Linked DNA regions of Homo sapiens. The protein of the gene in region 2 interacts with the protein of the main gene of each other region in a pairwise test. Each region holds a gene or a part of one and is shown on either strand. Other genes may lie near its edges.

What was found. Proteins that work in one complex are often made in the same cells at the same time.
Region 1: the proteins of SEPHS1 (region 2) and ZNF276 interact in binary tests that used the Homo sapiens proteins (3 or more experiments, as listed by UniProt).

What each region holds. Positions count from the first base shown.
Region 1 is NC_000016.10:89,724,537-89,731,561, reverse strand, and holds part of ZNF276 (zinc finger protein 276), read right to left. Parts: intron 4,284-7,025; coding exon 4,205-4,283; exon of another isoform or gene 4,136-4,204; intron 2,328-4,135; coding exon 2,244-2,327; intron 1,632-2,243; coding exon of another isoform or gene 1,595-1,631; exon of another isoform or gene 899-1,594; intron 1-898. UniProt on the Homo sapiens protein: May be involved in transcriptional regulation.
Region 2 is NC_000010.11:13,338,269-13,345,293, reverse strand, and holds part of SEPHS1 (selenide, water dikinase 1), read left to right. Parts: intron 1-265; 5' UTR 266-343; coding exon 344-536; intron 537-4,385; exon of another isoform or gene 4,386-4,603; intron 4,604-6,485; coding exon 6,486-6,589; intron 6,590-7,025. UniProt on the Homo sapiens protein: Synthesizes selenophosphate from selenide and ATP.

The DNA.
Region 1 (7,025 bases), on a different chromosome or scaffold from region 2:
AGTGCATTGAGGCCGGCGCGGTGGCTCACGCCTGTAATCCCAGCACTTTGGCAGGCTGAGGCGGGCGGATCATGAGGTCAGGAGTTCGAGACCAGTGTGGCCAACGTGGGAGAAATCCCATCTCTACTAAAAATACAAAAATTAGCCAGGTATGGTGGCACATGCCTGTAATCCCAGCTACTCAGGAGGCTGAGGCAGGAGAATCACTTGAACTCGGGAGGCGGAGGTTGCAGTGAGCCAAGATCGTGCCACTGCACTCCAGTCTGGGCAACAGAGCAAGACTCCATCTCAGAAACAAGACAAAAACGCACTGAGAAGAACTGTTGACTTCGCACAGGCTGCGCCTTCTCTCCCTGTCCCTAATAACTGGTTTTCATGACCTAGCCACATGTCCCCCTCACCTGCCCTGCCTGCCTGGATTGGGTGGCCCCTTGTTTGTGAGTGGCTGGCCATGCCGTTCCCACAATGACCACTCACCTCCTCAGCACAGGAGGCTTCAGAGCACCCGCAGTCTCTGTGCCCTCGTGTTTGGGACGGGAATCTTTGCGGACCGGGTGGGCTGGGCTCAGGCCTCACTGCTGCCTGTCAGTTCTTTCCCCATGGGGGTGCAGGCCCTGGCCTTCCCCTCTGGCGGGAACCACTGACCCCTCATTAACACATCACAGAAGTCTCTTCTCATGCGCCCCCAGCTGAGGACACAGGCGGGCACGCCCGCTAGAACTCCAAGGTCAGGGTTGACAAGACTGGGAGGCAGCACACGGGCCGGGGGCTGTGCAGAGGCCCTTCTGGGTTCCCAGGGGGGTCTCACGGTGGCAGCTGGGGAACCAAGTGCCCCTGGTACTCGCCGCAGTCAGGAGGCCATGCTTGCTACCACCCAGTCCTGCCTCCTGCGCAGCGGTTTCCACTGAAGTCACCCCTTTTATTAGAGACCTCTGAAAACGTATCTCCCGTGTCTCTGTTCCAAAGCACGTCTTTGTCTGCACTCCTGGGGTCCCAGAGGGACTAGTGACACAGTCTGAGTGTGCTGTCCCTGTCACAGCAGCAGGGGCTCAGCAGAGAGGACCCTCCCCTCCTGAATCTGCCTCGATCCGGAAAAGGCTCGCCTGGCTCCTCCCATCCCAGCTCCCAGCCCTCCTCACACCAGCAGCCCCAGACCTTCTGGGCAGCAAGCCAGAGACACATTCTCAGGTGTCCTGGGATTCAGACTCAACCCGGAGGGTCACGGAGTGGGGGCTTCCGTACAGCAGCCTCAGGCGGCACTCCCAGCCATGACTCCTGGGAACAAGCCTGGGGGTAGGGACCCCCGGGCACCTTTTCTGGGCCTGACCAGTTTTCTGTTCATGCTGAAGCTGCTGCAGCCCCTCTGGCTCAGTCCTGCCCTCTGCTTCGCATCTCTCTCCGGGCCTCCTCCACTGCTCCCGTTTCTCTTTTCAGAACTTAACAGCATCAGAACTTCCATGAAAAAAGGCCGTTGACCTCTCAGTCTGCACAGCAGGGTTCTAGTGGCTGACGGTGGTGCTCAGAGCCACCTGCCCTCTGGACCTTTGTTCTGGGCTGTGAAATGCTCAAGGACAGGGACTGGGTCAGTCACCAACTACCTGGGAGTGTTCTGGGTACTGCTGGGTATAGGGCTGCAAAGAAAACAGCACAAGTGAAAACCAGCCCTCACTACCAGGGCCTGTGTTCTAACTGAAGAGAGAAAATAAAAATCCCTAAAAACAAAGTCAAAACAAGCTCACAGAAGTCATTCAACAGGGAAGTGGACCGTGGCTGCCTGGCCATGGACATCAGTGATGGGGTCAGAACTGGGAGGATGACAGAGCTGGGTCCTCGGGCCTCTGGGGACGCACACAAAGCAGAAGCGACGGGTTGGGGGCTTCGGGGGTACACTGGGGTGTGAACCCAGGGCAGGACCGGCAGAAGGGACGTAAGAGCCTCCTTCTCAAGCAAGGCGGGGTTCTGTCGACAGAGACACCTGCCATCCACTGCTGGGACTCTGAGGCAGCCTCACAGTGCCGAGACCAGGTCCCAGCTCCAAAGCACCAGGAGGACCCACCTTCTCACCTGCCCGCCTGCCCCTCCCCCGCCTCCCGCTCACTGAGGGAAGCCACGTTTCACTGGGCTCGGGAGATCCGCACACGAGAGAGTGAACTGAGTGGGCACCGGGGAGAGGCCCTGGAGCACAGGCGGGTGTCTAGGTCGCCCAACGGATGCCTCCAGCAGACCCCGGGCTGCCCACTTACTTCCTTTCTGGGTAAGGCTCAAAGGACTCGTCCGAAGACTGGGCATTTTGCTTCTTGTCATTTTCATCTTCACTCAAGACGTCTCTAGGAATTAAGAGAGAATCTTCAGCAAAGCCCTGGGCCTGGGCAGTGACAGACCCAACACGACCTCCTGCCTAAAGATACCAAATGGACCCCCATGTCCCACATTTGAGTTCTTCTGAAAATGTCTTAAATCTAAAATCCCCAAATTTCCAATCCCGTTTCCGAACACAAAGGGCCAGCCAGGCTCACAAGCCAGCAATCCCCACAAGCCATGTGCTCTGGGCACCAGGACACTGGACTTGGAAACAGCCCTTTCCACAGCGGCCCAGAAGGGGTGGAGGCGCTCAAAGGTAGCTTCCTGCTAAGCAGACTTTGAGAAATCGACCACCTCACCCCATAACTGCGAACCCTATGCAACTGATGGGTTTGCCATGAGTCACTTCTAAGTTCACAAAAGTGGCTGGGTGCAGAGGCTAACTCCTGTAATCCCAGCACTTTGGGAGGGTGACGTAGGTGGATCGCATGAGGTCAGGAGTTCAAGACCAGCCTGGCCAATACCGTGAAACCCCGTCTCTACTAAAAATACAAAAATTGGCCGGGTGCGGTGGCTAACACCTGTAATCCCAGCACTTTGGGAGGCAGAGGCGGGCGGATCACGAGGTCAGGAGATCAAGACCATCCCGGCTAACAAAGTGAAACCCCGTCTCTGCTAAAAATACAAAAAATTAGCCGGGCGTGGTGGCGGGTGCCTGTAGTCCCAGCGACTCAGAGGCTGAGGCCGGAGAATGGCGTGAACCCGGGAGGCAGAGCTTGCAGTGAGCCGAGATTGTGCCACTGCACTCCAGCCTGGGCAACACAGCGAGACTCCGTCTCAAATAAAAAAAAAATAAATAAATACAAAACTTAGCTGGGTGTGGTGGCGGGCGCCTGTAATCCCAGCTACTCGGGAGGCTGAGGCGGGAGAATCACTTGAACGCGGGAGGTGGAGTTTGCAGTGAGCTGAGGTCACACCACTGCACTCCAGCCTGGGCAACAGAGTAAGGCTCGGTCTAAAAAAAAAAGTTCACAAAAGGAAAAAAAAAAAAAAAAAAAGATTTGTGGCCTTTATGCTATAACCTCAGCTGCGGTTTTGTGTCCTGGTGGTCCTGAGGACAGTCTTAGCCACCCCAGGTGCCTCCTGGCACCTGCCCGATTTCATCACTGCACATCCCACTGGGATTGGCCCCCAAACTGGGGTGTCCTCATTTGGATGAGGTGCATCTGTGTTGCAGCCAAGGTTTACAGGAGAGGGTGGAAACGGTGCAAACCCCAGCCTGGCACAGCTGCCCTGAATGGCGCTTGGCTCAGAGGCAGGGGTGGCCCAGGGAGTTTGCAGACACTGATGAGGTCCCTTCTGAGGCCCGTCCTCCTGCAACACCTCCTCGCAGAGCCTCGGCTTCAAGCCACAACAGTGTCATAGTCAAGGGCTAAAGTCGGGGTTTCTCTACTCCAGAAACATCTGGAGCGAACACAAAACTATGGCCCTAAAACAGTAGCAGAAGCAAAGGACCCAGCCAGAGTGGTTTCAACAAACTCATTTCTAGGCTGCTCTGGGTCAGAAACCCTATCAGGCTCCCTCTGGAGCTGCCTCAGGTCTGGGAGTGCTCTCTGGCACCCAGGAAACCATCAATCAGAGACAAGAAGCCTCGGAAGCTCCCCAGCCCCTCCTCTCCCGCCACCTCGAGAGGAGGCGTGTCCCAACCAGGGCACGGACAGCCGGCCCCTGTGATGGCTTAGTTTGGTACCAGCGCATGGGCAGCCGACCCTACGATGGCTGTTTGGTTTTTGAAGGAGAAATTTTAGGCTGTTTAAACCCACTCTTCTCTCACCCCTCAGAAAGGTCACTGATGGTTTTTGAAGGAGAAATTTTAGGCTGTTTAAACCCACTCTTCTCTCACCCCTCAGAAAGGTCACTGAACTCGTCTTTTACCCGATCATCCGAGGTTGAAGATGGAAGCTGCTTCTCACCCAACTGCCCTGAGAAACAAAGAACAAGGCTCCTGTTACCAACACGGAGCACAGAAAGGTCTCACCTGCAAGGAGGCATGATTCTACTATTGATGACTAGAAGGGAGACTGGGGTCCCTGACCCTCAAGTTCTCCCCACCATGGCCCCATCCCCACCAAGGGTGCTATGCAGCCTCTGATCCTGCCCTGCCAGCCCAACGTCCAGAAGCACACAGGCAGCAACAAGCATCAGAACCCTCAGGAACAGCAGAACCAGAAAGCCCAGTCCTTCCACTGACTCCGATCCAGTCCTTCTAGGACAGCCTGGACTTGGTGGATGTTCTGAGACATTTAAAAAATTACTAGGCCAGGCACGGTGGCTCATGTCTGTAATCCCAGCACTTTGGGAGGCCGATGCAGGTGGATCACGAGGTCAGGAGATCGAGACCAGCCTGGCCAACGTGGTGAAACCCCATCTCTATTAAAAATACAAAAATTAGCCGGGCATGGTGGCACACACCTGTAATCCCAGCTACCTGGGAGGCTGAGGCAGAAGAATCGCTTGAACCCGGGAGGCAGACATTGCAGTGAGCCGAGATCGCGCACTGCACTCCAGCCTGGGCAAAAGAGCAAGACTCCGACTCAAAAAAATAAAATAATTAAAAATTACTATTCTCAGTCCGGGTGCAGTGGCTCACGCCTGTAATCCCAGCACTTTGGGAGGCTGACGCGGGTGGATCACAAGGTCAGGAGATCAAGACCAACCTGGCTAACATGGTTAAACCCCGTCTCTACAAAAAATACAAAAAATTGAGCTGGGCGTGGTAACTCATGCCTGCAATTCCAGCACTTTGGAGGCCGGGGTGGGCGGATCACCTGAAGTCGGGAGGTCGAGACCAGCCTTACCAACATGGAGAAACCCCATTTCTACTAAAAAATACAAAAATAGCCAGGCATAGTGGTGCATGCCTGTAATCCCAGCTACTCGGGAGGCTGAGGCAGGAGAATCGCTTGAACCTGGGAGGCAGAGGTTGTGGTGAGCTGATATCGTGCCACTGCACTCCAGCCTGGGTAACAAAGAGTGAAACTCCTTCTCAAAACAAATACAAATACAAATACAAAAAAATTAGCAGGGTGTGGTGGCACAAGCCTGTAATCCCAGCTACTCGGGAGGCTGAGACAGGAGAATCACTTGAACCCAGGAGGCAGAGGCTGCAGTGAGCCGAGATTGTGCCACTGCACTCGAGCCTGGGCGACAGAGTGAGACTCCATCAATAAATAAATAATACTGTTCTCTCGGCCAGGCCTGGTGGCGACAGAGCGAGACTCCATAAATAAATAAATAAATATTACTGTTCTCTCGGCCAGGCCTGAAGGTTCATGCTTATAATCTCAGCCTTTTGGGAGGCCAAGGCAGAAGGATCACTTGAAGACAGAAATTCAAGACCAGCCTGGGCAAAAGAGTGAGACCCTGTCTCTACTTAAAATAAGTTTTCTTTGTTTTGTTTTTTTCTTTTTTAGACAGAATCTTGCTCTGTCGGTCAGGCCAGAGCGTAGTGGTAGAATCTCAGCTCACTGCAATCTCCGCCTCCCAGGGTCAAGCGATTCTCCTGCCTCAGCCTCCCAAGTAGCTGGGCCTACAGGCAACCACAGCCACATCCAGCTAATTTTTTGTATTTTTAGTAGAGATGGGGTTTCACCGTGTTAGTCAGGATGGTCTCGATCTCCTGACCCCGTGATCCGCCTACCTCAGCATCCCAGAGTGCTGGGATTACAGGCGTGAACCACTGCACTTGGCCTAAAATAAGTTTTAAAAAGTATTGTTCTTGGCTGGGCGCGGTGGTTCACACCTGTAATCCCAGCATTCTGGGAGGCTGATGCAGGTGGATCACGAGGTCAGGAGTTCAAGACCAAGCCTGGCCAACATGGTGAAACCCCATCTCTACTAAAAATACAAAAATTAGGTGGGCGTAGTGGCGCGTGCCCATCATCCCAGCTACTCGGGAGGCTGAGGCAGGTGGATCACGAGGTCAGGAGTTCGAGACCAAGCCTGGCCAACATGGTGAAACCCCATCTCTACTAAAAATACAAAAATTAGGTGGGCGTGGTGGCACGTGCCCGTCATCCCAGCTACTCGGGAGGCTGAGGCAGGTGGATCACGAGGTCAGGAGTTCGAGACCAAGCCTGGCCCACATGGTGAAACCCCATCTCTACTAAAAATACAAAAATTAGGTGGGCGTGGTGGCATGTGCCTGTCATCCCAGCTACTCGGGAGGCTGAGGTAGCGGTGAGCCAAGATGGCACCACCGCACTCCAGCCTGGGCTACAAAACGAGACTCTGTCTCAAAAATAAATAAACACATAGATAGATAGATAAGTAGGTAAATAAATAGATAAATAGGTAGATAAGTAGATACATAGATATACAGATAGGTAGGTAGATAGAGAGAGACAAAGAAGTAGGAAGATAGATAGGTAGGTAGGTAGATAGATACACAGATAGATAGAATTGTTCTCAACACACTGCATACAAGTTTACAGAGCCAAGCAGCTCTAAGATGTGACACTCACAATCCCGTTCCTACCTGAGGCCCCCGAGCCGCACTGTCTCATCTGTGCACCCGTATCTAGCTAAACTATCTGGGTAGCTGTGTTTCTGTTTGGGACAGAGTCTTGCTCTGTCACCCAGGCTGGAGTACGGTTGTGCGATGTCGGCTCACTGCAACTTCCGCCTCCCAGGCTGAAGTGATTCTCGTGCCTCAGCCTCCAGAG
Region 2 (7,025 bases):
GTGTCATGTGAACCTGCAGGCTGGCCCTCTTGCCACAGTTAAAACCACAGTCCAGATGTCAGATTTTACATAGATGTCTGTGCTGACGCAGTCCCGTTATGAAAAGATCTATTTTGTCATATGCACTGCTGTGGTGAATATAAGTGGTCTTGATGATTTCAGCCCTTGTCACATTGACTTTTCGCTGTCATGTATTCACTTGATTCGCTGGCAGGTCCCAGTGGGAATTCTTTTCATGGCATCTTTGTGTTTTGGTGACACCCAGGTGGATCCATAAAGAACCCAGCCAACCCGCAGAGGGAGGGGAGGGGCTGAGCTGTGAGGAGAGCGGGGCCCAAGAACCATGTCTACGCGGGAGTCCTTTAACCCGGAAAGTTACGAATTGGACAAAAGCTTCCGGCTAACCAGATTCACTGAACTGAAGGGCACAGGCTGCAAAGTGCCCCAAGATGTCCTGCAAAAATTGCTGGAATCTTTACAGGAGAACCACTTCCAAGAAGATGAGCAGTTTCTGGGAGCCGTTATGCCAAGGCTTGGTAGGTAACCCAGTGTTTCTTTGATGGTCTGCGATCCAATCAGTGAGTCAAAAACTGGATTTCTCGCCTCCCATGTTGCCTATTTATTTTTTATTATTACTTTTTTTGCTTTTATAGATTTGAGGAATACACATGCAGTTTTGTTACATGAATATATTACATAATGGTGAAGACTAGGCTTTTAGTGTAGCCATCACCCAAATAGTGTACATCGTACCCCCTTTATTTTTTTTTAATTTTTGTGGGAAGGATTAGAAGAGCAATCAATGTTATGATTGCTATGTTATGTTCTTGTAACTTATGTAGAGAAAGTACTTGAAACGCATCAAGAGGGGTACTCTTGACAGTTTTTAAATCATGGAGTATGCAATTGAGATTGTTATTACAGTAAAAACTTTTTAATTTTTATTTTCAATTTAATTGAATTGAATTTTCTGTTAGCTGAAGATTAAGCAGAAATACTTTATTCCCTTTTCCTAAAAGGACTCCTAAAATGCTCACATTCCCTTCATTGCCCTAGGAAAGGCGGTTCCAGCCTTAGGGTTCTTGTGCTGTACTTGGATGGCAGTGACTGTGTCAGGAGGGCATTGGGGTTCTCTGCAGGGTGCATCGGGCGAAAAGCGTGTTACGGTGAGGAGGTGGGACTGCTCCAGACCCAGGACTGGATGGATCTGTTCTTGACCCCAGGATGTCATCTGGAACCAGGGCAATGTCTTTTTCTTTACTACATTCCTGATGTCATGAGTGATTTCACTTTTCCCAAACACAGAGCTTAGAAACAAATTCTGGGCTCCTGGGATATTGTTTATTCATGTTTCTTGTGCAGTTTATTAAGTACACAGTACAAGACTGTGATCACTTTTCTTGTGTTCGACGCATAGTTTCGGAGGTTTGGATGTTCGATAATTACTGTGTGACTTGATCAGTTTTCTTCCTTTTTTTTTGAAATGGATTCTCACTCTGTCACCCAGGCTGGAGTGCAGTGGCGTGATCTTGGCTCACTGCAACCTCTGCCTCCTGGGTTCATGCGATTCTTCTGCCTCAGCCTCTTGAGTAGCTGGGATTATAGGCCCCTGCCACATGCCCGGCTAATTTTTGTATTTTTAGTAGAGATGGGAGTTTTACCATGTTGGCCAGGCTGTTCTCGAACTCCTGACCTCAGGTGATCTGCCTGCCTCAGCCTCCCAAAGTGCTGGGATTACAGGTGTAAGCCACCACACCCAGCCAAGGTTTTCATTTCATTTGTTTTTGCCCATTATTTGGTAAGGTTCATTGGTTATGAGCCTGGGGTCTCCTTTACTCCCAGATAGAGAAAGCAGATAAAAGCAGACTTGCTTTTGTTGGAAAGGAAGAAATGTTACACCCCAGTCGCTGGTGACCTGCAGGACTTTGAGGAGCTCAGTTTGAAAACAGTTCCTGCCGTCCAGCTGATGGCCAAGCTGTGGAGAAATACCATGTGAGCGAGCTGGGTTTGATGTTGGCTTATTTGTCGAGAAATGAGAATATACTGAGGAAGCTGTTAGATAACTGTCAAGAAAAAAAGCTATTAATACTTAATGCTCAAAAACCAATGAAATTAAAACATTACGGCATAAAGTAAGAATTACTATTTATAACTTCCTCTGGCACAGTTACTTACTAGTCACTCATATTATGTCATGAATGTCACCCAGCCCTCCTGAGCCTCAGCTTCCTAATCTATAAAATAATAATTACTGTTTGGGGTTGGGTGCGGTGGCTCACACCTGTAATCCCAGCACTTTGGGAGGTCAAGATGGGCAGATCACTCAAGGTCAGGAGTTCAAGACCAGCCTGGGCAAAATGGTGAAACCCATCTCTACTAAAAATACAAAAGTTACCTGGGCTTGCTGGTGTACACCTGTAGTTTCAGCTACTCGGGAGGCTGAGGTGGGAGGATCCCTTGAGCCCGGGAGGCAGAGGCTACAGTGAGCTGAGGTCACACCACTGTACTGCGGCCTGGGAGACAGAGTGAGACCCTGCCTCAAAAAAAAAAAAAAGATTACTGTTTTGCATTGTTGTACCAAAAATGTGTGTAGGTGTGCCATGTATGTCTGTACTTACATATATAATACATGTATGTGTATACCCTCTGTACACAAGTATATATGGTATATATGTATGGGTGTTTTTGACCTTTTTTTTGTTGTTGTTGAGATGAAGTCTCACTGTGTCGCCCAGGCTGGAGTGCAGTGGCACAATCTCAGCTCACTGCAACCTCCGCTTCCCAGGTTCAAGCAGTGATCTCCTGCCTCTGCCTCCCAAGTAGCTGGGACTACAGGCGCATGCCACCACACCCAGCTAAATTTTTTTGTGTTTTTAGTAGAGACGGGGTTTCAAGGTGTTGGCCAGGCTGGTCTCAAGCTCCTGAGCTCAGGTTATCCACCCACCTCAGCCTCCCAAAGTGCTGGGATTACAGGCGTGAGCCACCGCACCCGGCTGTATGTTTATTTTTTTAACTTTTTTTTTTTTTGAGACGGAGTCTCGCTCTGTCGCCCAGGCTGGAGTGCAGTGGCGCGATCTCCGCTCATTGCAAGCTCCGCCTCCCAGGTTCACGCCATCCTCCTGCCTCAGCCTCCCGAGTAGCTGGGACTACAGGCGCCCGCCACCATGCCTGGCTAATTTTTTGTATTTTTAGTAGAGACGGGGTTTCACAGTGGTCTCGATCTCCTGACCTCGTGATCCGCCTGCCTCGGCCTCCCAAAGTGCTGGGATTACAGGCGTGAGACACCGCGCCCCGCCATCTTTTTTTTTTTTTTTTCCTTGAGATAGAGTCTCACTCCATCACCCAGGCTTGAGTACAGTGGTGCAATCTCAGCTCACTGCAACCTCTGCCTCCCGGGTTCAAGGCCCTCCCAGGCCTGATTCTCATGCCTCAGCCTCCCTCCAAGTAGCTGGAATGACAGACGTGCACCACCACACCCAGCTAATTTTTTTGTATTTTTAATAGAGTTAGGGTTTCACTATGTTGGTCAGGCTGGTCTGGAACTCCTGACTCTAAGTGATCTGCCCACCTCGGCCTCCCAAAGTGCTGGGATTAAAGGCATGAGCCCCCGCGCCCGGCCTGTTTATGTTTTTAACTTTTTTCTAATTGAATGTCATGTTTTCTGGCTTCAAAAATGGTGTTAATTGAAGGGTTAACCAAAACAGCTTTTAAATGTACACACGATTACTAAATGTATCCTAATTAAAGAAATGGTAAAAGAAGTGTGCCTTAGAACCAGAGACATTTGTTGCCTGGTGCCTAGGAGCTATCAAGTAATGATTGCTGCTGCTGGCGGGGGCGGTGCAGGGGTTGGGGGTGGGTAGTGGTGTGATAACTTAGGTTGTCTTTCTGATGGAGGATGTCAGTATTGCTGAAAACCTTCCAGCAAGTTTGCCCATTGCCTCCTGGTCATTAAACCTAAACTGTTCTGTCTAGTATTTAAGGCTTCCCCGACCCTGTGGCATTTTCCTCTGTTCCCAGTTACCATCCCTCTGGACCGTCCCTCTGTCTTTCCATTTCAAACGCTAGTTTTTCAAGGCCTGTGGGCATCTCAGGCTCACCCCTTCTCTCTTCCTTCCTTGAAATGTGATTGGTGATTTCTAAACCAATCACTGTAGACCAGTGCTGTCCAAAAATACAATGCAAGCCACATGCGTAATTTTCAAATTCAAAGTAATATTTTTAAAAACCCGATAACAAAAATCAGGTGGAATTAATTATAATCTATTTTATTTAACACAATATATAAAAATGTCTTTTCAGTATGTATATATACGACATTATTAATGAGATGTTGGTTTTTGGTACTAGGTGTTTAAAATCAGTTGTCTGTTTTGTACTTACAGCACCTGTTTGTCAGATGCGCAGCCACCCCCTGTGTCTAGTGTCAACCACATTGGACAGCACCAGACCCTATTCTAGTAGACTGTGGTGGCACAGGTGTGAAAGAGAAACCGTGGATAACGGAGCTGCTTTTCAGCCCTAGGGGCGTGCTCAAGAATCCCCCGTTACTCTGATCAAAGGACTTGCTAAGTTTAGAAATAAAGCGCTTTACAAATCAAATGTATGTAATTCAAATTTAAGATTATTCAAATTAAGAACATTTAAAGCTAACATTCAGCAACAATTTTAGTTTCTCTTTCAGTAGTCCTCCAGTTTAAATGGAAGCCTGAAAGAAAACTGCCTCTTACTGTTTTCCAAAGTGAATAATAATATACTCAGAATAACCAGTTGTCAGAATTATCCATTTAGGGAGAATCCATTGAGTTAAAGAGTGGTATTTCTATTTAGGTGCTAAAGAGTGTGATGAAACAAATTTCTGAGAGGTTGTGCCCATGGGCTGTTTACGTGAATTATCTCACACGTTCTCCTCTGACAGATGAAAACTGATCCAGTGCCTGACATTGTTGAAACTTGCCATTCTGAACTTCACTTCTCCATTCCCTAAGCGAGGTCTTCCAGCAAGAGTTTCTGCTTTGTTATCTAGTGTGATAAAAATCAGCCTGTCTTCACAGACTATGGCTTTTTATTGAGTGAGATTTCATTTTTGCAGCAGGAAAGATCTGGTGCCTCCATGACCCGCCTCTGTGAGGTCTGCTGCTGTCATGAGACCGAGTGAGGCAGTGCTTCACGGCCCTTTCACTTACGCAGAATATTAAAGGTCGTTTTAGTGCGATTCAGATATGATTTAAACTTGTTTGAAATTCTGAATTTATAGGGTAGATTCAGGCACATAATTTGCTTCCTTTTGTCCTAATTCTGGCTTTTTCCCTGCTTTTGGCTATTGGGCTGCAAAGTAGAAGTACAGCATCCCCCTCTGTATCTGCAGAATCCTCGTGGGGGATTCAACCAACCACAGACTGAAAATATGCAGGGAAAGAAGTGGATGGTTGCATCTCAACATGCACAGACTTTTTTTTGTCTTGTCATTATTCCCTAAACAGTACAGCATAACAAATATTTACATCGCATTCACATCGTATTGGGTGTCATAGGTGATCTAGAGATGATTTAAGGTATGTGAGAAGATGTGTGTAGGTTATATGCAAATATTGGGACATTTCAAATCAGGGATTTGAGCATCTGTGGATGTTGGTGTCTGTGGGAGTCCTGGAACCAGTCCCCCACAGATACCAAGGAACAGCTGTCCTCATAAGAGGACAGAAGAGTGTCCTTCTGAGGGGTGTAGGGCTGCTCACTGTGTTCAGCTTTCTTGGTGGGAATGCTAGTCTGAGTTTGTAAAATGCCTGCATTACAAGTAATTTTTAAAGGAGTACAGCCTTATCTCCAAGACAAGGAGTAGCGTATCTTGACTACTACTGGTGGTCTTGGGACTCCTCTGACATAGATGCCAGAGTGTTTATATCCAGGCTTGATTGGAAATTTCCATTGAATTGTAGATTGGGATTTGTCCTTTCATTTCATCTGTGTGTGTGTCATTTTCACTTTTGACTAAAATGTATAAGTAATAATAGCATTTTTCAATGTAAAAATATTTTACATGGTTTCTGATGGGACAATACGATAATGTCTGTAAAGATGTACGCACAATAACTATACTTAAGATAACCCAAGTTCCATTTATAGGATTCTCATCTTCAAAGAAATTGTATACGGTACCAGTCACACGCTACAGTAATACAGTAAAATAATAAAAGTCATACAGTGAAAAAGATTTTTATTCAAGGCATCATTAAGGATTAAAACTATGCCATATTGGAGTTGAGTCTTGATGAGTAACATTTTCATTGGTATTTTCCATCCTAAGCTGGATATGTTTCACGTTTATTTCAGTTACGCTTCTTGATAGGAAACACATGGCTTCATTGGCAGCCTGCAGTTTCCATAAGTATCTTATGAGCTCTTCCTGTTCAGAGCACTGGTGATATAAAATGAAATGGCTTTCCCGTTTTATTTTTGGATGCTAATGACTTCCATCTCCACAGGCATTGGAATGGATACTTGTGTCATTCCTTTGAGGCACGGTGGGCTTTCCTTGGTTCAAACCACAGATTACATTTACCCGATCGTAGACGACCCTTACATGATGGTAAGCGTGAGCCGATGTGTTTTTGTGACTGGAAGGGCTTATTTGTTTGGTTTGGGTTGTGGCTGGGGTTTTGTATGTATCTGTGGGGTTTTGGTTTTATTTCTGTTATATCCCGACTATACTGCCCCACCCTGCCCAGACTCCTGCAGTTGCTGAAGTCAGGCCTGTCCCCTGCCCACACTTGGCACTGGGCATAAAGCAATTAGGGAGGAAGCAGGGAAGGCCCTCTGCTGCTGTTGCAACTGAGTACATGCTGTGAGTAAGAACACCTCTTGTTTAGTAGCATGTCAATGGCCTGTTTTTGTCATTTTCTTCTTTCTTGCACCTTCTCTTCTTTGACATTGGTAACCTCCATCACCCCTGTGTTTTAGGCTGGAGATGTTACTGTCCTCTGTAATAGGACTGATCCTAAATGTTTCCTTCAAGAGATTAAGGA